Homo sapiens: one gene and its partners. The protein of the gene in region 4 purifies or fractionates together with the protein of the main gene of each other region. This does not show direct contact. Each region holds a gene or a part of one and is shown on either strand. Other genes may lie near its edges. The genes, in order: LRIG1, TOR1AIP2, ITGA6 and CANT1.

Region 1 (7,957 bases), on a different chromosome or scaffold from region 4:
AACTCTTACGGCATCTGGTTGGTGGGGCTGAGGATGCACAGGGACCTCAAGCTCTGGTTCCTGCTTGGTGTCTGTGTCAGTTTCTGTTAGCATGAACAGCAGCTGGTTCCTCTGTGTACCAAGAACCCAGCGCTTTACAGTTGACCCTTCTCTCCCCAGATGACTTCCTGAAGCCACAGATCATCACCCAGCCAGAAACCACCATGGCTATGGTGGGCAAGGACATCCGGTTTACATGCTCAGCAGCCAGCAGCAGCAGCTCCCCCATGACCTTTGCCTGGAAGAAAGACAATGAAGTCCTGACCAATGCAGACATGGAGAACTTTGTCCACGTCCACGCGCAGGACGGGGAAGTGATGGAGTACACCACCATCCTGCACCTCCGTCAGGTCACTTTCGGGCACGAGGGCCGCTACCAATGTGTCATCACCAACCACTTTGGCTCCACCTATTCACATAAGGCCAGGCTCACCGTGAATGGTATGGAAACACCATCTTTGTTATAGTACCAGAATCCTACAAAGCACACTCCTGATTGCCCTTTCAGCTTTCCATGTAGAGATGACTGAGACAGGACACACACATGCTTCTGTGGGGCACTGTTAAATCCTATTGTTGCCTGGGTTTGCCCCAGAGCAAGTTTTGCAGATTTCAAGGGTTATTCACAATGAGTTACTTGTTTTTGGTGAGTTTTAAAAATCTAGTTATTGGCCGGGTGCTGTGGCTCATGCCTGTAATCCCAGCAGTTGGGAGACTGAGGTGGGCAGATCACTTGAAGCCAGGAGTTCGAGACTAGTGTGGCCAACATAGTGAAACCCCGTCTCTACTAAAAATACAAAAATTAGCCAGGTGTGGTGGCACATGCCTGTAATCCCAGCTACTTGGGAGGCTGAGGCACAAGAATTGCTTGAACCCAGGAGGTGGACGTTGCAGTGAGCCGAGATCACTCCACTGCATTCCAGCCTGGGTGTCAAAGTGAGACTGTCTCAAAAACAAAACAAAAACTAGTTATTAAGTCAAATTGTGGAGAGCTAAGCCTTGTTTTGTCCAGTTCTTATCCTCTATAAGCCAAGAGATCTGGCTTCCAAATTCCAAATACCCCTTAGCCTGGGGAAGCTGCTGTTCTTTGAGTAGATGGCACAGCATTGGAGTCAGAGGCTAGCTACTGCTCCAGAGACTGTGGAGTGCAAGGCTGGTGTGAGCCCTGGCCTGAAAGACACAGTGTCCTGGCAGTTGACAGGTTTTTACTCATTAACCAGCCTTGGAGCTTGTCAAGGGGACCATGTGTTATTGTGTGTTTGGAGGAGGGGGGTGGGGAGTAGATAGCTTGAAGAGTTTACTGTCCCACCCCAGTAACCTAATGGGGTTATCCTGATTACTAACTCTCTAGTTAAAAAGAATTGGCTTGAGAATCATCAGAATGGTGGATCTGCTTTGCTCTTTAAGCCCCCACAGATCACAGCGAAACACCTTCTTTACCACACTGTAGTGGGGTTGTCTTGGCTTATTCCAAGTCCTCACAGCTTCCGAAAGACTCAGCTGTTTGTTAGACTCTCCCCAAAATTGACGTTGACAGGAACTCTGGTGGTGCCTGACACGTGGCTGGATGCGTCCCACTCTGTCAGGACATCGATCTTTAGGCTGAGCAAGCTAGCAAGCTGAATGCTTCCTGCCTGGGTATACGGCAGTGGGCAGGAACAGCCTGGGTGAACAACCATCCAAATGGATGAGCCATCCCATTCATCCCATGAACACCCATCCAAACGGATGAGCCATCCCATTGCTCTCCCAAGGTGGAGGCATGCCCACCTTCCCTCTGTAATTCCATCTCCACAGCCTCTCTCTTGGTGGGTAAAGCAGGCAAGCATCAGGCCTACCTAGTGTGGATGGGCACCCCCTGCAACTCCCGTATAGGCACTGCCATGTAGAGTAAAAGCCTTTGCTTTGAAGGGACTATAGCCAGCCTAGGGTGTACAATGCAAGGCTGATGGGATGGAAGTGTTCCAACTGTGGTGGGAGAAGCTGGGGGTTCCTGATTCACAGGTGGCAGGAGTGGTCCTGGGCAGACATTGGGAGAAAAGAAGTGAACTGGCACTGGGCACAGTGACAGGTAGGTGTTTGCCAGAGGACTTCCTGGTTTTGCATCTAGCTGTCCCGTAACCCGACCCTGTATACGTATGTTTTCCAGTGTTGCCATCATTCACCAAAACGCCCCACGACATAACCATCCGGACCACCACCATGGCCCGCCTCGAATGTGCTGCCACAGGTCACCCAAACCCTCAGATTGCCTGGCAGAAGGATGGAGGCACGGATTTCCCCGCTGCCCGTGAGCGACGCATGCATGTCATGCCGGATGACGACGTGTTTTTCATCACTGATGTGAAAATAGATGACGCAGGGGTTTACAGCTGTACTGCTCAGAACTCAGCCGGTTCTATTTCAGCTAATGCCACCCTGACTGTCCTAGGTTTGCCTATTGCTCTACTGTGTGTGTGTGTGTGTGTGTGTGAGCGAGAGAGAGAGACTCTCAAATGCTCTGTGTGGCCAGGGGTGGTATGCGTTGTGGGCCTTTCGACCCTGTTTGAAATTTGGGGCTGCTTTTTGAGTTGAGTTAATTTTTCTTAAACAAGTGTTTCTATCTCTTTAAAAGAAATGATAGCTGGTGAATTAAGAGTCTTCATAGGGTTTAGCTACAGAACATTTTAAGAATTGGACAGGATGGATGTGGGCTTGGTCAAGAGCTACAGAACATTTTAAGAATTGGACAGGATGGATGTGGGCTTGGTCAAGAATAAGGACACAGGCCTGACACAGGACAGTTAGGGAATAGCAGGGGCTTTTGTCAGCAGAGGTTCACTGTCCCTGTGGAAGCCACTCCCAGCATGGAGATGACTCAGTCAATGAGTTGAAGGGTCTTCTCCAAAGCTTGCCACTCTGAGACAGAATCTCAGATGCATCTCATTGATATGTTGGATTGTCCGTTGTCCAGAAGACCGGGCAGAGCCAGAGCAACGGAGGCCCTGAGAATGACTAAGATCTCTGTTGCTCTCTTGTAGAGACCCCATCCTTGGTGGTCCCCTTGGAAGACCGTGTGGTATCTGTGGGAGAAACAGTGGCCCTCCAATGCAAAGCCACGGGGAACCCTCCGCCCCGCATCACCTGGTTCAAGGGGGACCGCCCGCTGAGCCTCACTGAGCGGCACCACTTGACCCCTGACAACCAGCTCCTGGTGGTTCAGAACGTGGTGGCAGAGGATGCGGGCCGATATACCTGTGAGATGTCCAACACCCTGGGCACGGAGCGAGCTCACAGCCAGCTGAGCGTCCTGCCCGCAGCAGGCTGCAGGAAGGATGGGACCACGGTAGGCATCTTCACCATTGCTGTCGTGAGCAGCATCGTCCTGACGTCACTGGTCTGGGTGTGCATCATCTACCAGACCAGGAAGAAGAGTGAAGAGTACAGTGTCACCAACACAGGTCAGGCCCTGCCAGCGGAGCTGACTTTCAAGGAGGGAGGAATGGCAGTGATGCTGGGGAACTGGGCCGGGTTCCAGTGGCTTTTGAAAGAATTGCACTGTGTTCAGAACTCCTGAGGGTTTAGTCCCACTAATTCCATTTTAACTTTGAGGAACTTAACCTTAAACAGGAATACTCTCAAATTTAACCTTAAACAGGAATACTCACAAATACAAGTAACTGACGCACCATGCAGTTTTCCCTCTCCTTGCTAACTCAGAGGCCGCCTATGCACAGGCCCTGCTGCCACGTAGTAGGTTGTTCCTGAAACAGTGCGGTACTTCTGTGAGCCCCGGCTTTCCATCACTGGTCTCCACTTCTTGTGGCGTCTGGCATCTGCTGGCTGCGCTCTTCACGCTGGGTGTAGAGTAAAGCTGAGCAGGCTCTGGGAGGGCCTGTTGCGTACATGGACTCCATGTCATCTCTCTGCACAGCGCTGATGGTCGTCACTGGGAGGATCCCCTTTCTGAGCTTGACAGTGAACGTGTGTCTGCATTTCTTGTCACTGAGACCCTGGTGTTCTATTTGTTCTGTCTCCTTGCAGATGAAACCGTCGTGCCACCAGATGTTCCAAGCTACCTCTCTTCTCAGGGGACCCTTTCTGACCGACAAGAAACCGTGGTCAGGACCGAGGGTGGCCCTCAGGCCAATGGGCACATTGAGAGCAATGGTAAGGCCTCAGTAACTGTGAAGCAGAGCTCTGCTGTGACTGTGTCTCTGGGTGCTGGAGGTGGCCTCCAGGTCTTTACAGGGCAGGTACCTGGCATTAGATGGGGCAAACTTGGTGAAGTAGAAGGCGGTATGACTAAGGGCTGCTATTTTGGACCCAGTCTTCATGAGTTCTGCAAGGTTTTAAAGTCCTGTCCCCTCAGGAAGCCACTGGATTGGGCTTAGCATCTCCCTGGCAGGATAAAGTAGGCTTGCCTGGAGTAGCAGCTGGAAAGGGCATTACGGTGCATGAACCCAGCCAACCCATTCCTTACATGGGGAACGTGCCCAGGTCTGCTCTGTGATCCAGTCTTACACTGGAAAGCTGTCACCAGGATGAGGTACTTCCAACGGTGGGGGCCTCTGAGCACTTGCCTGAGACTGTAGAGGCTCACCCTGAGACAGCTGCTCATTTCACAAGGCCAGCCTGCCTGCTGGGAAGTAGTAGCAGAAAACACGCTGCTTGCCAGACCAGCAGCCCCACCGCTCTGAAGAACTTTTTAAAAAAAATGACTGTTCTAGCGGCCTTGCTCATTCCTTTCATAAGGCTTACTGTGAAATACCAAGCCCAGAGTTTCTAATCGTGTTGGAATCCACTTGCAGGTGTGTGTCCAAGAGATGCAAGCCACTTTCCAGAGCCCGACACTCACAGCGTTGCCTGCAGGCAGCCAAAGCTCTGTGCTGGGTCTGCGTATCACAAAGAGCCGTGGAAAGCGATGGAGAAAGCTGAAGGGACACCTGGGCCACATAAGATGGGTATGAGATGCTTCCCATTGGAAGTAGTTTCTTTCTGAAATGGAAATTTGGGCTGACCTAGTCACTACATCAAAGGGGGAGACACATTCCTAGTCCACAGCTGTCTCCAAATTTGGTATTCAGTATATACAGGGGAAGCTCAGGCCTGGCTCTCTTAATTCCAGGATAGTTTCTCCTAAATAAATCTACGCCATGGTAAGCCTGAGCATGAATTTTCTAGATGTATAAGCAACTTAAATAAGGGGCAAGGCACAAACGAAGTATAGAGTTTCAGTCAGCACTTTTTCACCAGGGCTATTTTGAGGCTTATTTCTAATTGTTGAAAAGACCCAACACTGCATGGTACCTAAGGCTAATGGCTTTTCCCCCGTGAAGCAGTAAGACTACATTGTCTATGAAATTCACTGTAAACACGAAAGACCCCACAGTTCATGAGTGACTTGGTGTTTGCCCAGTCCTTTCTCTGGGGACATAGTTGGGGAAAAGAGGAAGCATGCATACAGTGTTTGCAGTCAGGGTTCTCACCTTGCACAGTGGAGCTGAGCAGCCTGTCCTCTGTGTGGGGACGAAGACTCCCACAGCAGTGACTCTAACCCATCTTTGGCGCTGTCCTTCAGAACACGGTGGCCGGGTCGTATGCAGTGACTGCAACACCGAAGTGGACTGTTACTCCAGGGGACAAGCCTTCCACCCCCAGCCTGTGTCCAGAGACAGCGCACAGCCAAGTGCGCCAAATGGCCCGGAGCCGGGTGGGAGTGACCAAGAGCATTCTCCACATCACCAGTGCAGCAGGACTGCCGCTGGGTCCTGCCCCGAGTGCCAAGGGTCGCTCTACCCCAGTAACCACGATAGAATGCTGACGGCTGTGAAGAAAAAGCCAATGGCATCTCTAGATGGGAAAGGTAACTTTTGACTGTCTTCTAACAGGTGGGTTGGGAGCTGCTTAAACGGTCAAGTGGGGGTCTGACAGGTTCGTTCTTTCCTTGTAGGGGATTCTTCCTGGACTTTAGCAAGGTTGTATCACCCGGACTCCACAGAGCTACAGCCTGCATCTTCATTAACTTCAGGCAGTCCAGAGCGCGCGGAAGCCCAGTACTTGCTTGTTTCCAATGGCCACCTCCCCAAAGCATGTGACGCCAGTCCCGAGTCCACGCCACTGACAGGACAGCTCCCCGGGAAACAGAGGGTGCCACTGCTGTTGGCACCAAAAAGCTAGGTTTTGTCTACCTCAGTTCTTGTCATACCAATCTCTACGGGAAAGAGAGGTAGGAGAGGCTGCGAGGAAGCTTGGGTTCAAGCGTCACTCATCTGTACATAGTTGTAACTCCCATGTGGAGTATCAGTCGCTCACAGGACTTGGATCTGAAGCACAGTAAACGCAAGAGGGGATTTGTGTACAAAAGGCAAAAAAAGTATTTGATATCATTGTACATAAGAGTTTTCAGAGATTTCATATATATCTTTTACAGAGGCTATTTTAATCTTTAGTGCATGGTTAACAGAAAAAAATTATACAATTTTGACAATATTATTTTTCGTATCAGGTTGCTGTTTAATTTTGGAGGGGGTGGGGAAATAGTTCTGGTGCCTTAACGCATGGCTGGAATTTATAGAGGCTACAACCACATTTGTTCACAGGAGTTTTTGGTGCGGGGTGGGAAGGATGGAAGGCCTTGGATTTATATTGCACTTCATAGACCCCTAGGCTGCTGTGCGGTGGGACTCCACATGCGCCGGAAGGAGCTTCAGGTGAGCACTGCTCATGTGTGGATGCCCCTGCAACAGGCTTCCCTGTCTGTAGAGCCAGGGGTGCAAGTGCCATCCACACTTGCAGTGAATGGCTTTTCCTTTTAGGTTTAAGTCCTGTCTGTCTGTAAGGCGTAGAATCTGTCCGTCTGTAAGGCGTAGAATGAGGGTTGTTAATCCATCACAAGCAAAAGGTCAGAACAGTTAAACACTGCCTTTCCTCCTCCTCTTATTTTATGATAAAAGCAAATGTGGCCTTCTCAGTATCATTCGATTGCTATTTGAGACTTTTAAATTAAGGTAAAGGCTGCTGGTGTTGGTACCTGTGGATTTTTCTATACTGATGTTTTCGTTTTGCCAATATAATGAGTATTACATTGGCCTTGGGGGACAGAAAGGAGGAAGTTCTGACTTTTCAGGGCTACCTTATTTCTACTAAGGACCCAGAGCAGGCCTGTCCATGCCATTCCTTCGCACAGATGAAACTGAGCTGGGACTGGAAAGGACAGCCCTTGACCTGGGTTCTGGGTATAATTTGCACTTTTGAGACTGGTAGCTAACCATCTTATGAGTGCCAATGTGTCATTTAGTAAAACTTAAATAGAAACAAGGTCCTTCAAATGTTCCTTTGGCCAAAAGCTGAAGGGAGTTACTGAGAAAATAGTTAACAATTACTGTCAGGTGTCATCACTGTTCAAAAGGTAAGCACATTTAGAATTTTGTTCTTGACAGTTAACTGACTAATCTTACTTCCACAAAATATGTGAATTTGCTGCTTCTGAGAGGCAATGTGAAAGAGGGAGTATTACTTTTATGTACAAAGTTATTTATTTATAGAAATTTTGGTACAGTGTACATTGAAAACCATGTAAAATATTGAAGTGTCTAACAAATGGCATTGAAGTGTCTTTAATAAAGGTTCATTTATAAATGTCAGTATAGTTGGTGGTCCTTCTTTTACAAACGCAGTCATTCTGCCTTTAATTATCTTCCCCCAAAAAAGAAAAAAAAAATAGGCGAAGCAAAATCACATACTGTTTGTTTGCTCCAGGGCAGACAACACTGCTAGATTCCTGACATTTTGTTTTGAATTTTTCTACACCTGGAGCTTGTTAGTCAAGGTCTAAAATCCCTAAGTGTGGTGACCTTTCCATTTCATCCTGCCTTTTCAAAGCTGGCCCAGGCCCTCCTTTCAGTCTGACATGAGAATGGCGAGAATGGCTCACCCA
Region 2 (7,957 bases), on a different chromosome or scaffold from region 4:
CAAGGGCATAGAGAGAGAGAGAGAAACACCAAGTCAGAAGCTGGAGCAGTCATTCAGGTCTAGGCAGTCTGACCTTAGAGGATAGTGCTATATTGGGTTCTATATTTGTAGATTTGCTTTATGGATGTTAGGTCATATTTGTAGATTGGACTTGATCCTGGAGGCTGACTTATAACTTTCTTTGTATAAAAGTAACAGTATTTACAGTTTTTTGTTTGTTTCTTTTTTGAGATAGGATCTCTCTCTCTTATCCAGGCTGGAGTGCAGTGGCACAATCACGGCTCACTGCATCCTTGACCTCCCAGTCTCAAGTGATCCTCCTACCTCAGCCTTCCAAGTAGCTGAGACTACAGGCACACACCACCATACCTGACTAATTTTTGTATTTTTTGTATGAACAAGGTCTCGATATGTTGCCTAGGCTGGTCTCTGAACCGTTGGGCTCAAGCAGTCCTCTCCTGCCTGAACCTCCTAAAAGGCTGGGATTATAGGCATGAGCCACCATACCTGACTACAGTATATTTTGAAGTACTGTATAAAGGTACTTTATAACTATTTTTTCTTTTCTTTTTCTTTTGAGACAAGGACTTGCTGTGTTGCCCAGGCTGGAGTATAGTGGCACTATCATGGCTTACTGCAAACTTGAACTCCTGAGCTCAAGCGATCCTCCCACCTCAGTCTCCCAAATAACTGAGACTGCAGGCACACACTGCCACACCCAGCTACTTTATAGTGAACACCAGAGTCATCTGGCAAATCTGTTAAAACATAAATTCCTGTAGGAGGCTCTCAGAGATTCTGGTCTAGTGGGTCTAGGTTGGGGCCTGAATTTGTACTTTTAGCAAGCTCCCAGGTAATGCTAGTGATTCCCAGCTAGTGAGTTTAATATAGTAAGGAAACAAACACTTGTTGTCCATATTGTTGACTTGATAGTTATACCCCAGTAGCACTGAGCATTCAGATCTTGGTTTTTAAAGGAACTAGGACTTTTTAGAGAAGTGGCTGATTTAGTGCGGGAGCAGAGAAAATACAAGATGAGCCTGAAAAATCTTATGGTGCTTGAAAGTAAGGAAATGCTACAAAAAGTTAGGGACCTTGTCGAAAGGACCCAAGAGCCAACTTGAAGGAGTTCCTGGTATCCAGGTTGGAACAATTTGAGCAATAAAATGAATAATGATAGTATTGGACTTTAACCCATAAAATAAAATGAGTTCATACTGATATTGCTGAGTGAATAAATAAGTAGGGGAGAAGGGACAACTCTAACAGAAGAATTCCATTTAATAAACATAGAAGGAAAGAAGGAAATACAAAACCACCATTAGGGAAACAGTACCATAGTAGTTGTTGCAGACAAAATCCAGTTAGAGGAAAATCAGAATATTTACATAGTCTCAAAGTATCTCTCCCAGGATAATTATTAACTACAAAGAAAAAATAGTAATCCGACAGTGGAGGTACTATGTTAACAAAGTGATCAAGGTTAACATCACCAGTAATGAGACAAGGACATCATGAACCCAAAGAGGCAGTGAGAAGGACACAGCGGCATTTCTGTGACGTTTGTTATTCTTGCCAAAAATGCATAATCTTTTTATCTTTCTAATCATGATAAAATATTGTAAAACTCTAAACTGAGGAACATTCTACAAAATAACTGGCCAGGTCAGGTGCAGAGGCTCATGTCTGTAATCCCAGCATTTTGGGAAGCCAAGGCAAGAGGATCGCTTGAGCCCAGGAGTTCGAGACCAGCCTAGGCAACATAGCAAGACCACGTGTCTATTTTTAAAAACAAAAAACACCGAACCCAAAATAACTGACCAGTATTCTTCAAAAGTGTCAAGGTCACAAAGACAAGAAAGGGTCACAAATGACAGGTAAAGACTGAGGAACTGTCATAGACTAGACACTAAGGAAAAATAACAACTAAAAGAAATCGTGAAATCTGAATATGGCCTCTAGTTAATTGAATTGTGCCAATGTTGATTTCTTGTTTTCGATAACTATGCTTTAATTATGTAAGATGCTAGATGAAGGATATAATGGAACTGTGTGCTATTTTTGCAACTTTTCTGTAAGTCTAAAATTAGTTCAAAATAAAAAGTTTAATAAAAATATGTTGACTTGAAGTAGATACTAAAAGTGATTAGGGAAGTTGAACTAAACCTGGCAGTCAGTTGTGCCACCCACTGTCAGAAATCTTAGCAAACTCTTAGATCCTTCGTGCATAGCTTAATACCTCTACGTGGTCAACCGAAACTAGAGATACAAGTCAAAGGAGTTGGGAGGGAGTATGAAAAAGGGTAAGTAGGAAAGGAAGGCTTTCTGCACTCAGAAAATATCTGTAGAATTTGATCTGCGCCAGGCATTCAATTCCTGTGTAAAAAACAATTCCCTAAGGAAGTAGAGTGCTTTTTGTTCCGAGGCTAGTACTTTTTCAAACTTCTTTCAAAAATCTAGAATAAGTCACCAGTTAGTGAAAATACAGAGAAACGAAAAATTGTGAAAATAATAATGCTGGGATATTATGACAGTGGATATGGTACAGAGGAGTGGGCAAGACTTAGAAATTTAGTTTTAGACAGACAATAAATAGCTAGCACAAGTTATAGAAATACCTAAGCTTGGCACCAGATCTGACTGTTGAAAGTTGTGTATTAGCCTTAAAGGTTTGGCTGCTGGTGTTTTGAAGTGAAATTGTAGACAGAATTTGGACCATGGGCTTTTGGAGCATTAGAGCAACATAGATAGAAATGTACCAGTAGGTTTCCAAACCAGTTGTTCTCCTTTATGGCCATGCCCCTCAAAAAGTATGGTAGCAATGCATACACACCTGTTTCGTTTGTCAGTTCCTGGGGCAAGAGAGAGGAGAACATTCTGCAGCTATTTTCTAACCTTGGGTAATATTTTTTATTTGGCTTCTCTGTTCTAAAGAGGGAACAGTGTGTGTACTAAATAGTACTGAAGATTGTCATCCATATGCCTTCTCTCAGTGATCTCAAGATTGCCAAATTAAAAGTAGTTTCTCACAAAACAAGTTGACTTTTTTCCAGGAGCATTTTATTTTCAACAAAAAATTATTTTAGATTATATGAATTCAAAAAGAAGAATGATTCCTTTTTTCATACTCCTTAATCTCTCATTATCTAAGGTAGTTGTGAAATAGGAAACTCTTAAGATTTCACTTTGTGTATGAAACTTATTGGAGAAACCATCTCATACAAAAAAAGTTATGATTATTGATTAGCCTTGACTGTAGTACCCCCTAGAAGAAAATATTTAAAATGGGAATTCAAGAGAGTTTAAAGCATTTATACTTTTTCTATGTGCCTATCTTGATTTTATGTATCATATGAGGAATTGGTTGAGGCTGAAGTCTAAGGGATAAATTGCCTGGAAAAGTCATTCCAATCCAGACTCAGTCTGAAACTTAATTATTATGCTACCACAAAAAAGAATAAGGGAATTTTTATCTATTGAAGGCAGATTTGAACTTACTAACATACATTCAGGAAATAGCAAAGAACAAGATAGACTATTTAGAGAAGTTAATTAAAAAGTTGCCATGGTTAGTTGATGTAAATTTCAGTGGATTAAATAGAACTACATTTTCTATTTTGGTGTGAAAGTACTATTTTCTTTTCTAAATTTTCTTTTAATAAAGTTTCAGGAAGGATCTTAAATTTATTTTAGTTTACATACACAAAACCCCTGATTTGTATTTTCTTTTGTATAGCATTTGTGCAGTAGAGAAGCTCCTCAAATTTTGTTTTTTTGCTCACTGTTTTTAGTGAAGGAGGTTTGAAAATACAAGCATCCCAGCTTTTGCTGTGGGCCTCCCTAAATTTCCTGTGATCTCTACAGGGGATCTTTTTATATCCCTCTAAGAGCCCTTAGCCTACAGGGGATCTTTTTATATCCCTCTAAGAGCCCTTAGCCTTCACCTAAATCACTGGTTCCAGTCTGGATTCCCTAGACATCTAGAAGTCCTGAATGATTTTCTTTCTGTATCCATAGTACTTGGCATTGGGCCTAGCACATGGTGCGCTCCTCAAATAAGTGAAACAATTATGTTTAACAATCATAAAGTAATGGTAGTTCTCAAGGTATTTTTATTTAGCATTTCTAAAAACCTAATGATAGTCATATACTTACCTTAAATCAGCTGCTTAGGACTTAAGCTAATGAAGTTGAGAAAGGAAGCCAGTTTTAGGATATCCAGATCTTTCCAACTCTGTGTTATAGGGATATAAAGTATTTTGTCTAATTTAAAATAATGGAAGTTTTTAAACCAAGGCTAGTAGCATTAGTTTTTTGTTTTATTAGAACTTCTGTTTGGCAGATCTACATATCCGATTACTAAAAATGAGAAAACGAAATTATTACAAGACTGCAGATTGTTTGGACATCTTTCCAAAATGGAGGAGGAGGGGTGGGATTGGAAAAAAGTTACCTTTGATAGCAAAATGGTTAGGAACCATAGTGCCTAATGGTCCTGAATCATTTCAGATTCCTCTAGGAGTTTAAAAGGATGTACCATCTTTTTGGAAAAAAATGCACATGTGTATGTAAAAAAAATTTTTTTTTTTTTGGAAATGGAGTCTCACTCTGTCCCCCAGGCTGGAGTGCAGTGGCGCGATCTTGGCTCACTGCAAGCTCCGCCTCCTGGGTTCACGCCATTCTCCTGCCTCAGCCTCCTGAGTAGCTGGGACTACAGGCGCCCGCCACCACGGCTGGCTAATTTTTTTGTATTTTTAGTAGAGACAGGGTTTCACCATGTGTTAGCCAGGATGGTCTCCATCTCCTGACCTCGTGATCCACCCGCCTTGGCCTCCCAAAGTGCTGGGATTACAGGCGTAAACCACCGTGCCCAGCCGTAAAGATTTTTACATGTAATTTCAGAGGATTCAGGACTCCTGGAAGTTTATCCTGTATTTTTTGGTGTGGAAGTGAAAAATTATGAGGGGTGATTTCTCCCACCGCCAATATTTATTCATAGTGGAAGAGTATCCTTTGGCTTTGTGAGCAGATTAAATGAGTTAATACGAATAAAGTGTTTAGAACAGAAAATAGCACTCCATAAGTGTTAGCTACTAAGTGTTATTATCTGACAGAGGGTTACTGTATACTGTTTAATATCCTGCCAAATAAAGTTTTCTGAGTTGTATATTGCTTGGAGGAACTGTGCCTTTTTCTAATTTGTACAAAGGCGTCATGTGAAATAGCAACTTCCCTACACAGAAATTCATGCCTTCAGAGAGTATGCTAAGATAAACCCTCTTTTGTACAACCATTAGGTAGGCTTCTTTTACCTTATTTCTATGAAGAGATGGTTGCTTAAAATTTTGTGAGGAAAACAAAGATCCATATCCTTCTATATTGCTCTTCTTTATCCCAATGTAAGTTACCTGCTTTGCCTCTGAGCAGATTAACTGCTACTGGTCTTGTCCACAGTGTGAAAGTTTGGTTTTGCTTATTAACCTCTTTCTCTTTTAAACATTATAAAATATTGAATAGAGATGCTGTAAGCTATTAGGATTTATGATACAGTGGGTATTCTTGTACCTTCACCCAGTTAAAGAAAACAAAATTACAATTATCTTTGAAATTCTTTGAATGCCCTCCATCCCCCACCCTTCCCTCTCCCATCAGAGGTAATAATTATCCTCAGGTTTGGACTTAATACTTCTTTTTTTTTTTTTAAAGCTTTATTGCAGCCGGGCACGGTGGCTTACGCCTGTAATCCCAGCACTTTGGGAGGCTGAGGCGGGCGGATCACCTGAGGTTCGGAGTTCGAGACCAGCCTGACCAACATGGAGAAACCCCGTTTCTACTAAAAATACACAGTTGGGCTGGGGTGGTGGCTCATGCCTATAATACCAGCACTTTGGGAGGCTGAGGCGGGCAGATCACCTGAGGTTGGGAGTTCAAGACCAACCTGACCAACATGGAGAAACCCCGTCTCTCCTAAAAATACAAAAGTAGCCGGGCATGGTGGTGCATACCTGTAATCCCAGCTACTCGGGAGGTTGAAGCAAGAGAATCACTTGAACTCAGGAGGCGGAGGTTGCAGTGAGCCAAGATTGCACCATTGCCCTCCAGCCTGAGCAACAAGAGTGAAACTCCGTCTCAAAAAAATATCCCTAAACAACACATTAATTTTATATCCTTTTGAAACTTTATGTAAGTGGAAAGTTTATATAAGAATGTGTGCATGTGTTTATTTTTTTCCTTGTGCTACTTGCATTTTTTTTTTAAGCTCAACATTCTTGAGTTTCATCTGTGTTTAGAATGACAGTATCCTATTGTACAGCAATACCTTAATTTATTCATTCTCCCGTTCGTGGCCATTGTGGCTGTTATTTTGCTATTACACAGTGCTACCATGAATATTTTTATTCATGTTTTTAAATGTACAGGTGCAGTTTCTCTAGGGTATGTGCCTAAGAGTGCAACTGCTGAGTTATAGGAAATGCACATCTTCAGTTTTACTAGGTAATGCCAATTCCAAAAGTGATTGTACAGATTTATAGTCTTGTCATTAGACTATAAGAATTCAAGTTACATTTTATTTTTGTCATTTATTCATTCCAGAAATATTTATTGGACACTATAGCAGTAAATAGAAAGGTAAAATGTCCTGCTTTCAGGGAGTTTATATTTTAGTGGAGAAAAATAGCCAAAATAAATAATATAGCAAAATGGTACCTGTTTTATGTGAAAAAAATAAAGCAAGCCTAGTAGTACTTGTTATTGCATTGCTGATAGAGCCATATGGGGGGATTTGAGGCTAAGGGGATGGGATATAACCAAGAAGTCCTGTGTTTCAGGTGGTGATTGACATGAACAGAGATATAGGTATGAGATTGGTCCTGATGCTTTCAAGCAGATAATTGAAGCTGTATTGAAGCTGTGAGTGTTGGGGTGGGGATAGGGGTTAGGAATCTTGCCAGGAGCATTTTCCCAGGCCCCTCTCTTCACTCCTACTCATCCAGTAGCTCTAAGGCTAAAGAATGAGTGAGGAAGCTGGTAATGGGTGGTATTATTTTGAGCATTTGGAGTTCTGGGGCCCCCTGGTGGCTCTTGCCTACAGAGGTTTAAAGGACCAGGAGAGGAGGGAAGACTTGTCTGAAACATATGGAACGGTGGAGTTCTCTTGATGCAGGAATACTTGGAATTCTAGTGCTTGTTTGATTCTTGAAGTTGTAAAACTGAAGGTTGGGGAATGGATGGAATTATTCTGAGCACTTGGAGCTTTAGGGCTTTCTCTTGACTCCTACCAATAGAGTCCTCTGGGAGGAGTGGTTTTTGCTATAGTATGTGGAACCCCCTTTGTCAGTTTTTGTAGTGTGGTAGATGTGAAATAGTATCTTGCTGACACTACAATAGTATCTTGTTGCATTTACTTGATTTCACTCTAAAAATGTAAAATCTGATCAATTAAATGTCAGACTTTTAATTTTTTATCTTTTGTGTTTATCCACCATTGTGGGAGTTTTATTCGTCATCTCTCTGTACCATGACTAGAGACCCAAGATTTAATTCAGTAGCTGAAGCTTTCACTGGTAGCTCTTGTCAGCAGACCCTCAGGGAAATCTATTATGCCCTGTGCTATCAGCACCAAGTATCTAGTCATTGAGTCGGAAACCAAGCCTTTTGTCCACTCTGCCTGAGGAACTGAATTAGTAGCCCTCACCCGTACATTGTTACCTAACCTCAGAAAACACATCAGTATGTCTACTTGACTCTATTTCACCCGCTCTGGGACTTCCATCAAAATATGGGCCCCATGTTGTCGTAGCACTATCAGAGCCTCTTCATTCGCCTTTTAAATTTACCATTTTAAAATCTGAGAATCACAGCTATTACTTCTGTAAGGAGAGTGCTTTGGCTTACCACAACTAAGGCTATAATTCCTTCTATTTTTCAGGCCAGATCTTTATATTTTAACTCATGC
Region 3 (7,957 bases), on a different chromosome or scaffold from region 4:
ATACTTGATTGTAATTGCACTGGCCAAGAAACCAATACTTTGGTCTTTAAGATGGATGGCTGTGGATTTTATAAATTTACTTGCTGTCAGAACATTTGAAAATATGAAGCATTTTTTCTCAAACACATTTGCCACTTTTAGAATGGATTTCCTCAAAAGTGAATGCCTGAGAAAGAAATCAAATTCATATTGTTACATTCGGTTTGTCTGTACTGTGTGGAATCTGTCACTTCAAAAGATCAGAGGGTTTGGGGGAACAAAACGATCTGCTTGAGGTTTTGGAAGCTGGCAATGAGAGCAGCTTGCCGGATGCAGTGGTGGCCTCCTCATCCAGCGAGAACAGCAGTGGCTGTCCTGCCTCTTACCAAGCATAATTACTTTTTCTTCAATTTCTTCCGTCCCGTGCATGCGTACAGGCCTGCTGTTTTTGACCAGCGTTTCCTATACAGATCCTGATCAGTTTGTTTATAAAACACGGCCTCCCCGGGAGCAGCCTGACACATTCCCTGATGTGATGATGAATAGCTACCTAGGTTTGTGACCTCTGCGACGACAAATAAATTGTCTTGGTTGTGGTCATTAAATTTTTTTTTTTGATCCATACAGAGCATAAATCTTTTTATGCCCTATTTTGTTTCCATTGAAGCACACACAAAAAGCATGCCATGGCTGGGGCTCTGTGGCCAGATGGTTGTAAGAGCTGGACTCCATATTGCCCTCTAATCTGGTGGCTCATGTTTTTCAATTCACTTCACAATTTGAGAACTGCAACGGTAGTGGTGAAGCTTTTCATAAGTAAAACCCAATAAAGGGGGTGAGCTTATATTATTCTGCATCTGCCTCACCTTTCTATAGAAACATTTACTTAATTTGAATGGTTTTGATATGGGCACTTCTATTTGCTTTTCACCAGATCTGTTATTTGTAATCTGACATCCTACCTGATGCTTTATAATGGGTGTGTCCTAATGTTTTCTGCCCTCTGAACAAGTATATAACTGATACCAATGACAACTTCCTCACCTCTGTTGTTTATACTAGGTTCTCAAATACCATGTATCATCAGTCATTGTTTTGTCTGCATGTTTGTGTCTGAGAACTAAGTTGGTCCAAAACAATGAAATGCTATCTATGGTGTATTAATGATGTTAGCATTTGTTTTTGTCTGATTACCAAAGAGTTGATGCCTCTTACCAAGCTTAATTACTTTTTCTTCAATTTTATTTTATTCCTGTAAAAATACTGGTCATTAAATTACAGCAGAACCCTGTAACATGCACTCAATTATGCTTCCAGTCAGGTTATATATTCTCTGTGTATATGATGTAACATAACCAAATTATTCCTGGACAATTCAGTATCTAGCTTGATCTCCTTTTACCATAGTTCCAATATTAAAATAGGGTGGAAATTGATTCTTAAGATGTATGAATACTTCAAAATTCAAGTTATACATAGGTGCTTTTAGTTAAAAGTCTTAATATCCATAGAAAGCAGTAAATTAGCTAGCCCCAGGACTTTGTCCTTGTGTCACATCTGAACTCTGTCACTCATATTACGAATGTGATAGCTGGTGGGAGGGTCAAGAGGAGAGAGGGGTGGGAAGCCAGAGGAAGAGGTAATGATGGAGTTACCAATGTCATAGGCCTAAAATATATGGATTGATGTGAGGGGCTCTATATATTTTGTTTTTCTAGGTTTTTCTTTGGACTCAGGGAAAGGTATTGTTTCTAAAGATGAGATCACTTTTGTATCTGGTGCTCCCAGAGCCAATCACAGTGGAGCCGTGGTTTTGCTGAAGAGAGACATGAAGTCTGCACATCTCCTCCCTGAGCACATATTCGATGGAGAAGGTCTGGCCTCTTCATTTGGCTATGATGTGGCGGTGGTGGACCTCAACAAGGATGGGTGAGAAAGCCTCAGGTTATATTATGCTGCAAATCATTTCTGCTTTGACTAGCTTCTATACGACTGGAGAAGAGCCGTCCTTTCAGGTTCATTGACGTAAAGAATATTTTTATTGCCGCATTTTTACCAGCCTATCTTTATCATTTCTATGATGGCAGCAGACAGACATTCATATCCCTCCCCAGCGTATAGGATTATATTTTTGATTTTCAGTTTTTACTTATATGTTGGGATCATGAGTCTATGAGAATTAAAATTTGAAAAAAATTGACTCAGAAAACACTTGCATGATTCTGTTCTGTGGTTTCATATGGGGCTGATGGAGCATCAGCTCCCGTTGAAAACAGGAATTGGTGATAAAGTAAAAAACAGATATGTGGCTGTTGGTGCCAGTTGGGGGGGTTAGAACAGTGAGGTCTTAATGGGAGTCCTGCTGTACTATGGTTCTAACTCGAGAAATTGGCTTTGAGTTCTTACCCTTAGTATTTTTCTTGGGGCGTTTATTATAGGCTACCTTGGTTTTTAAAAAATGTTATAATTGAGTCATAAATTCTGGAGTTGAGGGCCTTTCTATTATATGTCTTTGTATCCTTAGTACCTAGACTGGTGTTGCTGGTATGTTAGCTGTTGGTTCACGGCTCTTTCCCCTCATTATGTTTTTAGGTGGCAAGATATAGTTATTGGAGCCCCACAGTATTTTGATAGAGATGGAGAAGTTGGAGGTGCAGTGTATGTCTACATGAACCAGCAAGGCAGATGGAATAATGTGAAGCCAATTCGTCTTAATGGAACCAAAGATTCTATGTTTGGCATTGCAGTAAAAAATATTGGAGATATTAATCAAGATGGCTACCCAGGTAGATAATAGATTATGAAATGGCTATGATTTATAGATTATTTGATTGTTTAAATAATAGCGCTGCTGGGCACAGTGGCTCACGCCTGTAATCCCAGCACTTTGGGAGGCTGAGGTGGGCGGATCACCTGAGGTCGGGAGTTCGAGACCAGCCTGACCAACATGGAGAAACTAAAAATACAAATTAACTGGGTGTGGTGGCACATGCCTGTAATACCAGCTACTCCCAGCTTTGGAAAGCTGAGGCAGGAGAATTGCTTGAACCCGGGAGGCAGTGGTTGCGGTGAGCCAAGATTGCGCCATTGCACTCCAGCCTGGGCAACAGGAGCGAAACTCCATCTCAAAAAAAACAAAAAAAAACCCCGAAAAAGCCAAACAAATAAATAATAGTGCTTGTGTCATCTTACTTTAAAACATTTTACTAGAGTGTTTCTAAAGCGTTTGTTAAAATGTTAAAATGTGATGTTGTCAACAGATATTGCAGTTGGAGCTCCGTATGATGACTTGGGAAAGGTTTTTATCTATCATGGATCTGCAAATGGAATAAATACCAAACCAACACAGGTAACCAAATAACCGGGATTTCTACAGCTAGAGTCTCAACTTTTTGCCCTATAATAAAATATTTAGGTTTAAGTGACTTTTCACACAAATCTTATTTTATTTACAAGTCCACAATAGTATAAATTTTTTAAAAATGTATTACTAGAAGATACCTTCAAAATAAATATATAAATGTAATGACTTGCTTGTTCTAATTGTAAAATTTCTTAGATAAGTTAGGAATCAAGGTAATCCAAAGCAAATGAATGTTATTCTACCCTGACGGCATTAAGATAAGAGGAAATACGATATATTCTCTTTAGTAGCATACTAAATAGAGATGAAATTGGTCAAACAAAATAAATGACTGTAACTACATGGAGAATGTAGACACCAAAAATTAAAAATGTCTTTTGAGAAAAATAAGACTTGTAGGGAAGGTAGGGAGATTTGGTTTGAAATGGCCTGATTGACTTAATACAATAAACAAGCTCATCAGAAATGGGCTCTTTTCTGCTTTGAGATACTATGTAAATCGGATGACTTTTATGAAATGAAATGTATGAAGTGTTAGATCATATAGAAATTTATGACTTGTATATAATATAATTTACTTATAAGTGAACTCTCAAATTTCAGTTCAAAAGAAACTTGTGTGTCTTTTTCAAAGCATTGTTAAGAAGCTCATGGTGATAACCTAATGTCCATTCGGATGCCCTGTGTATTTCAGGTTCTCAAGGGTATATCACCTTATTTTGGATATTCAATTGCTGGAAACATGGACCTTGATCGAAATTCCTACCCTGATGTTGCTGTTGGTTCCCTCTCAGATTCAGTAACTATTTTCAGGTCTGTTATCTATGATTTTAGTGTTAAGCATGTTCTATAATCAGGTTATACTAAAATGTTGACCTTTTGGACTGAAATTTGTCATACCTATACTTCAAAGGTTTATATGAATTGTGAAGCTATTTCTTTTTCTTTTGAAGTTAGTAAACAATGTAATAACAACCTATTTTCTAAAATCTTTTAAAGTATCTGAGGAAAACATAGATCCAAGTTAGAATTTTTACTTCATATATTTTTAAAACCTTAATTTTGATGATGAAAAAAACAAAACACATATAAAATGTGACAGTACAAAGAACATACAGAAGGAAACCCCCTATAATTCACCATGCATTATTAAACTCCAAGATCTTGATTTCTATTTTATTTTCTGTGATTGGACCATGTATATTTAACAAAATTAAGACCATAATTGTGCATAATTTTGTAACCTGCTTTTGTCTCTTTAGGATACATAGTAGACTTTTCCTATGTCACTGAGTACTTTTCCAAAATGAAGTTAACAACTGTCTGTGAGGCATCTTCTGACAGGTTCAGAGCTTATTTAACCAACTGCCTTGCTCTCACTGGATGGTTACGTTGCTTCGCAATTTTTTTTTTTGCTCCCATGATATAAAAAGCTGTGGAAAACATTCTTACTTTTGTTTATATCCTTGATTATTTCCTTATTATAAATTCCTGGATGTGAAATTGATATATGTGCTTCAAGACTTTTGATTCGGTTTCGCCAAGATGACCTCCCAAAATGGTGCGACATTTCCCATCCGTGGTGTTTGAGTCTCCCTTTAACCAGCGCTTTCATCACTGCTGGAAATCACCATTAAAAATTGGAGGCTTTTTTTGGTTTGTTTTTTAATTTTCAAAAAGTAGCAGATTTATTTTTTTTAAAGTTAATAATATAGAATTATAGAAAATCCAGTACATTATTCCCATCTTCCACAAAACTTGTGTGCATTTCTCTACTTTTAGGGTATCATCAAAAGGCTACACTGTAACTTCTGCTGTCTAATCTGGTTTTTATTTAATCTTGGGCTATCTCTCCTTGTCAATACAATAGATGACTTAACTTTAGTCAGTTAAATGTTTGCCCCTGTCTATGTGTAACTGATATTTTAATATCCTTACTTTCCTGTCCTCATAAGTAGGTTGACTGTCAACCCTGTACACTTGTTCCCTCTTTACTTGCAGATAGTGTGAAAGTAGAATTCAACAACCCTTTGATAAGAAGAGGAGTAACTTCCCCTTATTTTACAAATGAGGAAACTGAGGCCCAGGACTTGGCTTGAGCTTTTAAGGCTGGAGCCTGAGAGGACAGAATGTAGCACCTAAATCTTCCTGACTTGAATCCTGTGCATTTTTTCTACTAAATTGTACTAGCACTTCAGGGTAGTTAGTAAATAAACACCAATTTTAAACATGAGGCAGCCAAACTAATAAGACTTATTTTCTATGTTAAAAGACACAGTTTTCATAATTCATGTATATTTTGCCCTCAAAATTGTGTGTTGTATGTTTAAAAAACAAAATATGTTCTAGGCAGAAATGTCTGTTAAAATTCTACAGTATGTAAAATACTATATCTGTGGCAACTGTGCCTTTTAAATATGCTCTCAAAACTTAAGAATGTATCTAGTTAGTATCTTAGAACCTAGCAGCTGTCTAAATGTAAAATAAAAATAGAATGGTAAACAATAAAGGAAAATGGAAAAACAGGGAATGTGGGCAGTATTTGACCCTTTATTGGACCCTACCTTCACTGTGAATGGACTTGTGCTCTAGCCTACCAACAGATTGATTCCAGAAGTTCGAGCTAGCTGTTTGGGATTTGGAATGCATTTTCTTGTAGAAACACTGTTCTCCAGAATGGCTGGGTTTACCACAAGCCCATCAGAGTCAGCCTAACTGAATCCACGTGGTAATGAAACCCCAGGCCCCATTCTGAGTTCTGGTGGGGAGCAATGGAGGTGGGCCTCCTCACCCACTCATACCCCTCAACCCACCGCATACCTGCATTTCTTGTGCCTGTGGCAGCAGTTGGGCCACAGACCCGTGGAGACCCCTGTGGCTGCTGGGAGCAGGGCAGCCAAAACATACGAAAAGATGTTTTCAGATGGTGAACCAGAGTAGGGCGTGGAATTGGATTCCAGCTTCTCAAGTGTTTGCGGGGTTGCAGTAGGCAGCGCAGAGATGGGAAGAAGTTTAAAAGTTTAAGTTTTTGCTTGCAGAGATATCGTGGGGGTAGAAAAGTTGTCAATCCTGGCAATAGGAAGGCAAAGACTGAAGGTTGTGGGTGGGAGACTCCGAGGGAGGCTGAAGAGAAGGGCAAGTGTTTGTACAATGGAGACTCCCAAGTTCAGGATTGCCTGTATTAATTCACATACTGTAGACACGCTGATCATGAGCATCTCAGGTATTAGGTGTTTGTTGGTGTAATTCTTCCAGAGGGTATGTTGGCAAGACTACTCGTAATTAAAAATGCACATATTCTTTGACTCCAAAATTCTGCTGCTGGGAATTTATCCCACAGATAAACTCAAGTGTGTGCACAGATGATGTTTGTGAAAGCAGAAAGCTCAACAACGTGAATGTCTACCGATTAGGTACTGGTTAAATAAAGGATGTTACACTGATACAGTGTAACGCCATCAGGTGTGAAAAACAGTGAACTAGATCTATGTGTATATACAGGACAAGACCTCTGAAATGGATGAGAAAAAGCCACATACAGAACAATGGCAATTAAGTTCCCATTTAGTTGAAATTATACATATATTTTAATATTTAATTTTAGATAATTTTAACTGACGTGTCTGGAAGAACATACAAGGCTACTTGGGTGTTCGGGTGGGAATGGAGACAAAATATTTACTTTAACCCCCACATGTTGCACATGTACTCATAAGTGTGTACGTTTTTAAACAAATATTGTATAATGAGGCTCTGCATTGTATACATTTATATCTATTAACAGTTATTTTCTTCAGCAATGGGGGAAAACGTCACGTGTATTTTTTTTCCTGTGTTTTTAAGCTGTGCTGGGCAGCTAAGGATGCTCTCTAGTATGTGAATTAGACTCACATTCAAGGTAACAGAGGCTGAGCTTGTTTTTCACTCCTTTTGTCTTCAGATCCCGGCCTGTGATTAATATTCAGAAAACCATCACAGTAACTCCTAACAGAATTGACCTCCGCCAGAAAACAGCGTGTGGGGCGCCTAGTGGGATATGGTGAGCATCCCTCTGTCTTGGTGGGATCCCCCTCAGTTTCCCACCTCCACTTCATGATGACTCTATTGTCCTGAGGAGCCACAGGGAAGATGACAGGAGTGCTGGGCAAAGGGAAGAGGGTCTGTCAAGTGTTTTTATAACATGTTGATCATCAATGGGCATTGGGGGGATTGGAGAGCTAGGGAACATGTTGGGTTTTTTCCACTGCAATAATGGATCTTTTAAGAAATATGTGTTTGATTTTATTCAGCCTCCAGGTTAAATCCTGTTTTGAATATACTGCTAACCCCGCTGGTTATAATCCTTCAATATGTAAGTACCTAGTACCTTTAAAATATGTCTACTTTCTGTCTGCCAGGTTGAAAGTTCTGCATAAATCACAGAAAAATAAAACTGCAGTGGCCAACATGGGTCTGTCAATTCTGGTGTAAAGAATTAAGTGTATGTTTTGTCTCCCTTTTAATCAGGAGGGCACAGCACCGTGAGGGAGGAAAAAAACTCCACTTGGTCGCCATTTGAGTTTTCCAGAGCAGATGGTTTAGGACAGAATGGCTTGGAAAAGTACTTATTTGCTA
Region 4 (7,957 bases):
ATCGAGATTTCCTGGAAAGCTCTTATGAAATGCCAATATCAAGGGAATTAGAAACTTTTATATTAATTCTTAAGAATGTTCATGTTGATTTTCCTTTTACTTTAATCAAGATGGTTAATTAGGAAAAAATCATCCTGGCAGTAGAGAAGTCTGTTTGGGGAGACGTTCTGTTTTTTGTTTTGGACCCTGCTCGTCTTTGTCATGCGTGCAGTGGTCATGTGGAGCGCCTGGTTCCCAGGCAGGACGCTGCTCCCCGCGTTCCTCTGGGATGGTTTTATGGGAAGTGAAGAAGGCGTTGAAGTCTGGCTTAAGACTTAAGACAGTGCGTGATGCCACCATGTGGGAGTGGGGCAGAGGTGAGACTGGGACCCCCCAGAATGGCTCTGAGGGTGTTGCCGGGTTGAGTGAAAGTCCTGGCGATTCGGCCTTTGTGTCCCGGGAGCCGAGCCTGGAGGAAAGCGTGAGGAGAGAAGGTGGCAGTAAGCAGGTGGGCTCGTGCAGGTGCCACCGCGGTGTGGAAGGCAGCCCTGATCCAGGTCCATGGGGCGATGATCCCATCCCGTTATTTTCACACACTCTGGAAAAGGACACCTTCCCAGATGTGTGGTGCCATTTGGAATGTGCCTTTCAACTGAGAAGGTCGCCTTTTGGCTAAAATTCCTCCAGGTGTAACATCGATGATACAAATTAAGCAGACACAGCCTCTTTACAAGGCAGTAACTGCAAACCGTAGAGGGTTCTGAAGCTGTGCGCCCACACCATAGACAGTGACTGGTCCTGGCCCTTGGAAAAACCTGGAGGCTCTTTCCCCTCTTCCTCCTGTGATTGGTGGAGGAACAGCTCCCCGAGATGTCCACGTCCTACCTTCTGAGCCTGTGAATATGTTACATTACATGGCAAAGGGGAATTAAGGTTGCTGATCAGCCGGCCTTAAAGTAGTGAGATGATCCTGGATTTTCCCAGGGAGCCCAGTGTAATCACAGGGTCCTTAAGAACAGAAGAGGGAAGCAGAAGAGCCGGAGGGAGATGATGGCCAAGAGCCTTGGGGAAGTGCAGTGGGCGGGCTTTGGAGGGGGAGGAGGGGCCACCAGGCAGGGAATGTGGGTGCCTCCAGAAGCTGGAAGAGGCATGAGAATGGAGCCATGGCCCGTGTGAGGCTTCTGTCCCACAGGACGGTGCCTGCTGCCTGCCGTGTGCTGGATACTAGGGGCGGGGACAGGTGCAGAAGTCAGTCAGATCCTGAGCTTGACCTTTAAGGAGCGTGCTGTCTGTGGAGGCAGGATGGCCTAACCAGACTCCCTGTGACCTTCTTCCTTTCTGGTTTCCTTGTACTGCCCACCCCCGAGGAGATTTGCCGTGGAATTTGCAGGTACAATAGTTAGCCTTGCAAGTGCCAAAGCAGGAATCAGGTAACGTTTTCAAGGAGTCTGGCCCATAGCAGGCATTAATAAGTGTTTCTTTGAGATGCGCCACCCGTGTTCTCTCAGGCGCTGTTAGCATGAGTGTGTGAAGGCCTTGGCTTCTGCCTTGGCTGTGCTGAAGAGTCTGTAGGTCAGTGGGGTTTGCTCTTTACCATGGCAGTGAACACAGTGGGCACTCTGAGGCCTGCCTGCCTGCTCTCTGGGTGTGGGAAGGGAAAGGAAGGTAGCTCTTCTCCAGAGATAAGGGGTTGGCGCACCTGCCACCTGCCTACCCGTCCCTTCCAAGGAGGTGGGGGCTAGGATGTGGCGGCCTCTTAACAGGATGATGTGGCTTCCTGCCCTGCCTGGATCCTGAAAGGGAGGAGCCTGGCAGCCCTCAGTAAACCTGCTGGTTCTGCCACCTGTCCTATTCCACTCCTGCAGGAAGCTGGAGAAACAAACCCTCTTGGCTGTCTGCTGTCCAGGGAGTCGCCACTCCCTTCATTATAGCCTTGCTCAGAGTGCAGCGGCAGGCCTGGGGATGGCCTCGGGAGGTAGGTGGCCCCTGAGCCCTTCTCCTGGGAAAGGGCAGCAGCAGGGAGACGCCTCCTGGGTGTGCACAGAGAAAAGCACAGTTTCCCTAACTCCCCGCTCCCTAACTCCTCGCTCTTTAACTCTCACCTCCCTAACTCCCCCCTCCCTAACTCCCTTCTCCCTAACTCCCCTCTCCCTAACTCCCTTCCCTAACTCCCCTCTCCTTAACTCCTCTCCCTAACTCCCCCCTCCCTAAATCCCCTCTCCCTAACTCCCTTCTCCCTAACCCCCCTCTCCCTAACTCCCCTCCCTAACTCCCCCTTCCCTAACCCCCCTCTCCCTAGCTCCCCTCTCCCTAACTCCCTTCTCCCTAACTCCCCTCCCTAACTCCCCTCTCCCTAACCCCCCTCTCCCTAACTCCCATCTCCCTAACTCCCCCCTCCCTAACTCCTTGCTCCATAACTCCCCCCCAGCTCCCCTCTCCCTAACTCCCCTCCCTAACTCCCCTCTCCTTAACTCCTCTCCCTAACTCCCCCCTCCCTAAATCCCCTCTCCCTAACTCCCCTCCCTAACTCCCCTCCCTAACTCCCCCTTCCCTAACCCCCCTCTCCCTAGCTCCCCTCTCCCTAACTCCCTTCTCCCTAACTCCCCTCCCTAACTCCCCTCTCCCTAACCCCCCTCTCCCTAACTCCCATCTCCCTAACTCCCCCCTCCCTAACTCCTTGCTCCATAACTCCCCCCCAGCTCCCCTCTCCCTAACTCCCCTCTCCCTAACTCCCCTCCCTAACTCCCCTCTCCTTAACTCCTCTCCCTAACTCCCCCCTCCCTAACTCCCCTCTCCCTAACTCCCCTCCCTAACTCCCTTCTCCCTAACCCCCCTCTCCCTAACTCCCCCCTCCCTAACTCCCCTCTCCCTAACTCCCCTCCCTAACTCCCCTCTCCTTAACTCCTCTCCCTAACTCCCCCCTCCCTAACTCCCCTCTCCCTAACTCCCCTCCCTAACTCCCTTCTCCCTAACCCCCCTCTCCCTAACCCCCCTCTCCCTAACTCCCCTCCCTAACCTCCCTCTCCCTAACTCCCCTCTCCCTAACTCCCCTCCCTAACTCCCCCCTCCCTAACTCCTCTCCCTAACTGTCCTCTCCCTAGCTCCCCTCTCCCTAACTCTCCTCTCCCTAACTCCCCTCCCTAACCTCCCTCTCCCTAACTCCCCTCTCCCTAACCCCCCTCTCCCTAACACCCCTCCCTAACTCCCCCCCAACTCCTCTCCCTAACTCCCCTCTCCCTAACTCCCCTCCCTAACTCCCCTCCCTAACTCCCCTCTCCCTAACTCCCCCTCCCTAACTCCCCACTCACTAACTCCCCTCTCCCTAACTCCCCTCTTCCTAACTCCCCTCCCCAATTCCCCCCTCCCTAACTCCCCCCCAACTCCCTACTCCCTAACTCCCCGCTCCCTAACTCCCAGCTCCCTCACTGGTGGCTCCCCTGCGCTCTGGGAGTGTCCTGTGGGATGGACAGATGCCTCCGTGGTGCCTTGCAAGCCTTGCAGGTGGTTATTCCTCCTGTGAGTGCTCCTGTGAGTGCTCTCCAGGCAGCAGCAGGGGTCCTGTCCCTGTAGGCCCCTGAGTCTGGGAGATAGCTGGTTTGCAGCCCCACTGAACAGGAGAGCCTGGCTGGCCACAGAACCCATGACTTTGCTGTAGTCCCTGAGTCCTCTTGTTGCTGATTATCTAAAATCAAACCATTACTCTGCAGGCACTGGGTTTGTCAATCTTTTCACAATAAAGCGAGCATTTAAACTGCTTAAGCTTTGAGGGGTGTAGGGAGAAGCCTCACACGAGCCCCTTCTGGAAAGGACTTTGTCCATCTTGTGTCTTACCCTCGCCGGTTCATTTCTGTTGTTTCTGGCTGGCAACAAACAAAAGAGCCCCCCCACCCCCCACCCCCGAAAAAGAACCCAGCTTTTTAAAGAACATGCAAACTCTTGCCTGCAGCAGGCGCCGGCAGCCAGGCACCCCGGCAGCCAGTGGTAGCTCATACACCAGCATGGGCTGTGGCAAAGGCATCTGATTTGAAATTTTTTTGCAAAATAAAATAATTCCTTGGGGTCCTGAAGGAGAGATGAAGCCCAAGGGAAGGTGTTCTGGTGCTGAAGTTAAAGGAATTTTCTGGAAGGTACACAGAGTTCTCTTGTCACTAGAAGCAGTCCCTTGTTTAACCAAAGGTGGCTGAGGCCCTGGCGTCTCTGCCCCTCTGTTAGCTCTGGGGAATCAGCGTGACCTCGAGGTAACACTGACCACACGGGACTGTTCAAAGTCTGTCTCCCCAACTGTGCTGAGCTCCTGGAGGAAAGGCCCCTGCCTCCGTCACACTGATTCCCCAGAGGGGCAGAGACGCCGGGACTCAGACACCTCTGGTTCCATGTGGTCAGAGGACATGAGCCTCCCGGGTGGGGAGCGTGTGCCACGGTGTAGATGCCAGGAGTCTGGAATAGGAAGGCGTGCAGTGTTGCACAGCGACCTGGGAGAGGTCCTGCTCCTGGGAGTGCAGGGGGAAAAACCCACTGAGGCTTTCTCTGCAGGCTGAGACGTTTGTCCTTCAGATGGAAGGCATTGGGATCTACTAGACTTGGAATCCAGACTTGCTTTTTGGAAAAATTATTCTGTCAGTTTTGTGGAGGGTGATTTGAGATGGTCTTGACCAGGGATCTGTCGAGGGACAGGGAGTCAGTATTTTCAGCCTCCACAGTCTGTTGCGACCACTCAACGGTGCAGCCAGACTCAGCATGCCAGGGAGGAGTCCTAGCTGGCTTTAATCAGCCACATCTACACACCAGGACGTGACTACACAGCAGGCCGCGTCTACGCAGGCCGCGTCTACACACCAGGCAGAGTCTACACACCAAGCTGCAACCACATACCAGGCCACACAGGCCGCATCTACACACTAGGCGGGAGACTGCATTTGGCCCACGGGTGGTAGTTTGCAACCCTCCCAGCAGGCGAGAGGGTACTTGTAGAGTGAGTGAGAAGCAGTAGCAGTCAGCCCCTGTGCACAGTTCTCTAACCCCATCAGCATGGCTCCGGGAAGTAAACTGAGGCCAAGGGAAGTCCCTTGGCTGAGCCCAGATGGTCTATATCAGGGGTGTCCAATCTTTTGGCTTCCCTGGGCCACATTGGAAGAAGAATTGTCTTGGGCCACACATAAAATCCATTGATAGCTGATGAGCTTAACAAAAAATCTCATCTCATCATGTTTTAAGAAAGTTTACGAATTTGTGTTGGACCACATGTTGGACAAGCTTGGTCTAGATCATTAGACCAAGACTCTGAGAGTCATCAGGGTGAGATGGAACTGGAGCCGAGGCTGTGTGGATGGGGAGAAGGGAAGCGAGTCTCAAGCTGGGTGGGACACGTGGGGCTGGGGAGGGAGGAGGGTTAGGACGAATTGCTTCCTGGGATGGCTCCTGAGGGCCGGCACTGCCAGGACAGGGAGTTCCTGAGGAGGACCTGGTTTGCGGTGCCTGTGGGTATCGGATGAGGAGGCTCAGAGACTAGGTCAGGCTAGAAAGGCGTGGGGGTCTTCACCTTAGAGGGCAGGCCCTGGGAGAGGTCAGTGGGCTGCCAGCAGTGGGGGCCGAGAAGACCTGCCTGGGAGGAGGCCCACAGAGAGTGCCCCCCTGCCTCGAGGAGGGACACTGACAATGTGCTCACTGGGTTTGCCACTGGTGAAGGCTTCAGGTGGCTGCTTCTGAGGATTAGCCAGAGGGAAGGAGAGGGTGTAGGTGTGGGTGCTCTTGTACCATGGTGGGCGAGGGGGCCTGGGCGGGGGTGGGAAGGGACAGAGGTGCCGGGGACTCAGGGAAGGGTTTTCCTTCATTAACAGATTCGCCATTTATTCAGCAGCAGTTGAGTGTCTGTGGGAGTGTGGGGTCTGGAGGTAAAATGGTGACAAGGTGGGCGACTTGGGGCAGCCTGTGGATGGAAGGGAGGAACCAGAAGAGCAGGTGCCCGGCGGCTGGGGGGACTGACCTGAGTGGCAGGTGTGAGCCCCACCCAGGGGCCTCGGCTGCTGAAGTTGGCCACAGAGTGGTCTCCTGGGAGAAGTGGGCCGGAGATTTGACAGGAATGGTGAAGGTGAGGACAGTGGCTCTCCGGAGTGCTGAGGGAGTTGAACAGGGAAGAACATGGGGGTTCCAGGGGCTGGTGACGACGACACCTCACGATGTCTGACAGCAGTCTATGCAGGCACCGTTGTTCTGTGCTGGCAAGCACCGTCTTCCCGGGCCTGCAGCTCAGATGTGGCAGCTGAGCAGCTCGATCTTTGGGGTGCTTGATCCAGGTTGTGGGTTCATAATATGCCTAAGGTGGGGCCCCCGGTAGAGTGCAGAGGGGCTGTTGAAGAAGTGGCTAATGGCTCACCTGGCATCTCTTTCCCTTCAGCCAATGCGTGCAGACTGTCTGCTCCCTGCCTGGCAGTGCGTCAGGTGCTGGGGCTGTGACAGTGGCCAGATCCCTGCCCCAGGAGCAGAAATAATCACCTAGCCAGGCAGGGACGGTGGGAGAGCCGGAGCGGCATGGGAGGGAGGGCGAGTGGGCAAGTCTTCCCAGGGAGCTGATGCCCCGTAGGAGAGACCGAGCTGCTGGTGCGAAGAGCAGGCCCGACTGTTCCAGGCAGGGGGAACTGCAGGCTCTGCCAGGGCCAGTGTGGTCAGGGGACAGAAGGAGGTCTATGTAGCCAGCCGGCAGGCAGAGGAGATGGTACAGTGTGAGGGCTGAGCGGGAGCAGAGTGGGTTCACCCCAGGACCTGAGGAAGCCGCTGAAGCTGGGAGTGTGCCATCTGATGGATGCTACTTCATGGCAGGTGGCGAGGGAGTGTCAGGGGATGTTGGTGGGGGGCAGCTGGCAGGGCAACTTCATGGCGGGGGGTATGGGAGTGTCAGGGGCGGAGAGGCAGGAGGGGTGGAGGGAGGCAGCCGGCATGGCATGGTGAGGAAGGGCCATGGAAGAGGACAGAACCTGTCCACGGAGTCAATGCTGAGGAAGGAAGACGGAGGATGAGGCCAGTCAGGTTTTTCGTGGTGGCAGTGCCTTATGTTTTTATCGAAGTGTATATTCACACAGAAAAGCACATCTCCCAGGATCCTGAGAGAGCTTGAACCAGACCACTGTGGACACGGTGGCCACCCGTCACCACTACCCTTCCCAAGGGGAGACGAGGAGCAAGTAGGCTTGAGGGAAAAGCTGCACAGGACTCGTGTCTTGAAATGTCTAAGACGCATGTCAGAAATGCAGGTAAGGGGGGGTGCGGGTGCTCGCACCTGTGATCCCAGCACTTTGGGAGGCTGAGGCAGGAGGATCACTTGAGCCCAGGAGTTCAAGACTGGCCTGGACAATATAACGAGGCCTCATCTCTATAAAAAAAATTAAAAATTAGCTGTGCCCCAGGTGTGTTGGCTCACACCTGTAATCCTGGCACTTTGGGAGGCCAAGGCAGGTGGATCACCTGAGGTCAGGAGTTCAAGACCAGCCTGACCAACATGGAGAAACTGCATCTCTACTAAAAATACAAAATTAGACGGGCGTGGTGGTGCATGCCTGTAATCCCAGCTACTAGGGAATCTGAGGCAGGAGAATCACTTGAACCCAGGAGGCGGAGGTTGCAGTGAGCCGAGATCGTGCCATTGCACTCCAGCCTAGGCAATAAGAGGAAAACTCTGTCTCCAAAAAAAAAAAAAAAAAAAAAAAAAAATTCGCTGTGCGTGGTGGCACACGCCTGTAGTCCCAGCTACTTGGGAGGCTGAGGTGGGAGGATCGCTTGAGCCTCAGAGGTTGAGGCTGCAGTGAGCGTGATCACTGTTGCCTGGGCAACAGAGCGAGGCCCTATCTCAGAAAAACAAAAAAAGAAATGTAGGCGGGATTGGCATAGCAGGTAAGATAGAGTAATTCGAGCTCAGTGGAGACTTCTTGGGCCTGGCTGGGGTTTTGAGGCCTTGGGACTAGAAAAGGGGCAGGGCCTGGATGCA

What was found.
Region 1: the proteins of CANT1 (region 4) and LRIG1 purify together in Homo sapiens (affinity purification with mass spectrometry; 3 studies listed by BioGRID and IntAct, with this or other methods). This does not show direct contact.
Region 2: the proteins of CANT1 (region 4) and TOR1AIP2 purify together in Homo sapiens (co-immunoprecipitation; 3 studies listed by BioGRID and IntAct, with this or other methods). This does not show direct contact.
Region 3: the proteins of CANT1 (region 4) and ITGA6 purify together in Homo sapiens (affinity purification with mass spectrometry; 3 studies listed by BioGRID and IntAct, with this or other methods). This does not show direct contact.

Annotation. Positions count from the first base shown.
Region 1 is NC_000003.12:66,378,504-66,386,460, reverse strand, and holds the end of LRIG1 (leucine-rich repeats and immunoglobulin-like domains protein 1 isoform 1 precursor), read left to right. Parts: intron 1-159; coding exon 160-480; intron 481-2,188; coding exon 2,189-2,470; intron 2,471-3,059; coding exon 3,060-3,479; intron 3,480-4,062; coding exon 4,063-4,188; intron 4,189-4,829; coding exon 4,830-4,982; intron 4,983-5,599; coding exon 5,600-5,884; intron 5,885-5,971; coding exon 5,972-6,198; 3' UTR 6,199-7,664; downstream 7,665-7,957. UniProt on the Homo sapiens protein: Acts as a feedback negative regulator of signaling by receptor tyrosine kinases, through a mechanism that involves enhancement of receptor ubiquitination and accelerated intracellular degradation.
Region 2 is NC_000001.11:179,867,034-179,874,990, reverse strand, and holds part of TOR1AIP2 (torsin-1A-interacting protein 2), read left to right. Parts: intron 1-6,150; exon of another isoform or gene 6,151-6,183; intron 6,184-7,957. UniProt on the Homo sapiens protein: Required for endoplasmic reticulum integrity. Regulates the distribution of TOR1A between the endoplasmic reticulum and the nuclear envelope as well as induces TOR1A, TOR1B and TOR3A ATPase activity.
Region 3 is NC_000002.12:172,472,358-172,480,314, forward strand, and holds part of ITGA6 (integrin alpha-6 isoform b preproprotein), read left to right. Parts: intron 1-416; coding exon of another isoform or gene 417-533; intron 534-1,697; coding exon 1,698-1,908; intron 1,909-2,571; coding exon 2,572-2,765; intron 2,766-3,239; coding exon 3,240-3,328; intron 3,329-4,037; coding exon 4,038-4,156; intron 4,157-7,283; coding exon 7,284-7,382; intron 7,383-7,632; coding exon 7,633-7,694; intron 7,695-7,957. UniProt on the Homo sapiens protein: Integrin alpha-6/beta-1 (ITGA6:ITGB1) is a receptor for laminin on platelets. Integrin alpha-6/beta-1 (ITGA6:ITGB1) is present in oocytes and is involved in sperm-egg fusion.
Region 4 is NC_000017.11:78,999,369-79,007,325, reverse strand, and holds part of CANT1 (soluble calcium-activated nucleotidase 1), read left to right. Parts: intron 1-7,957.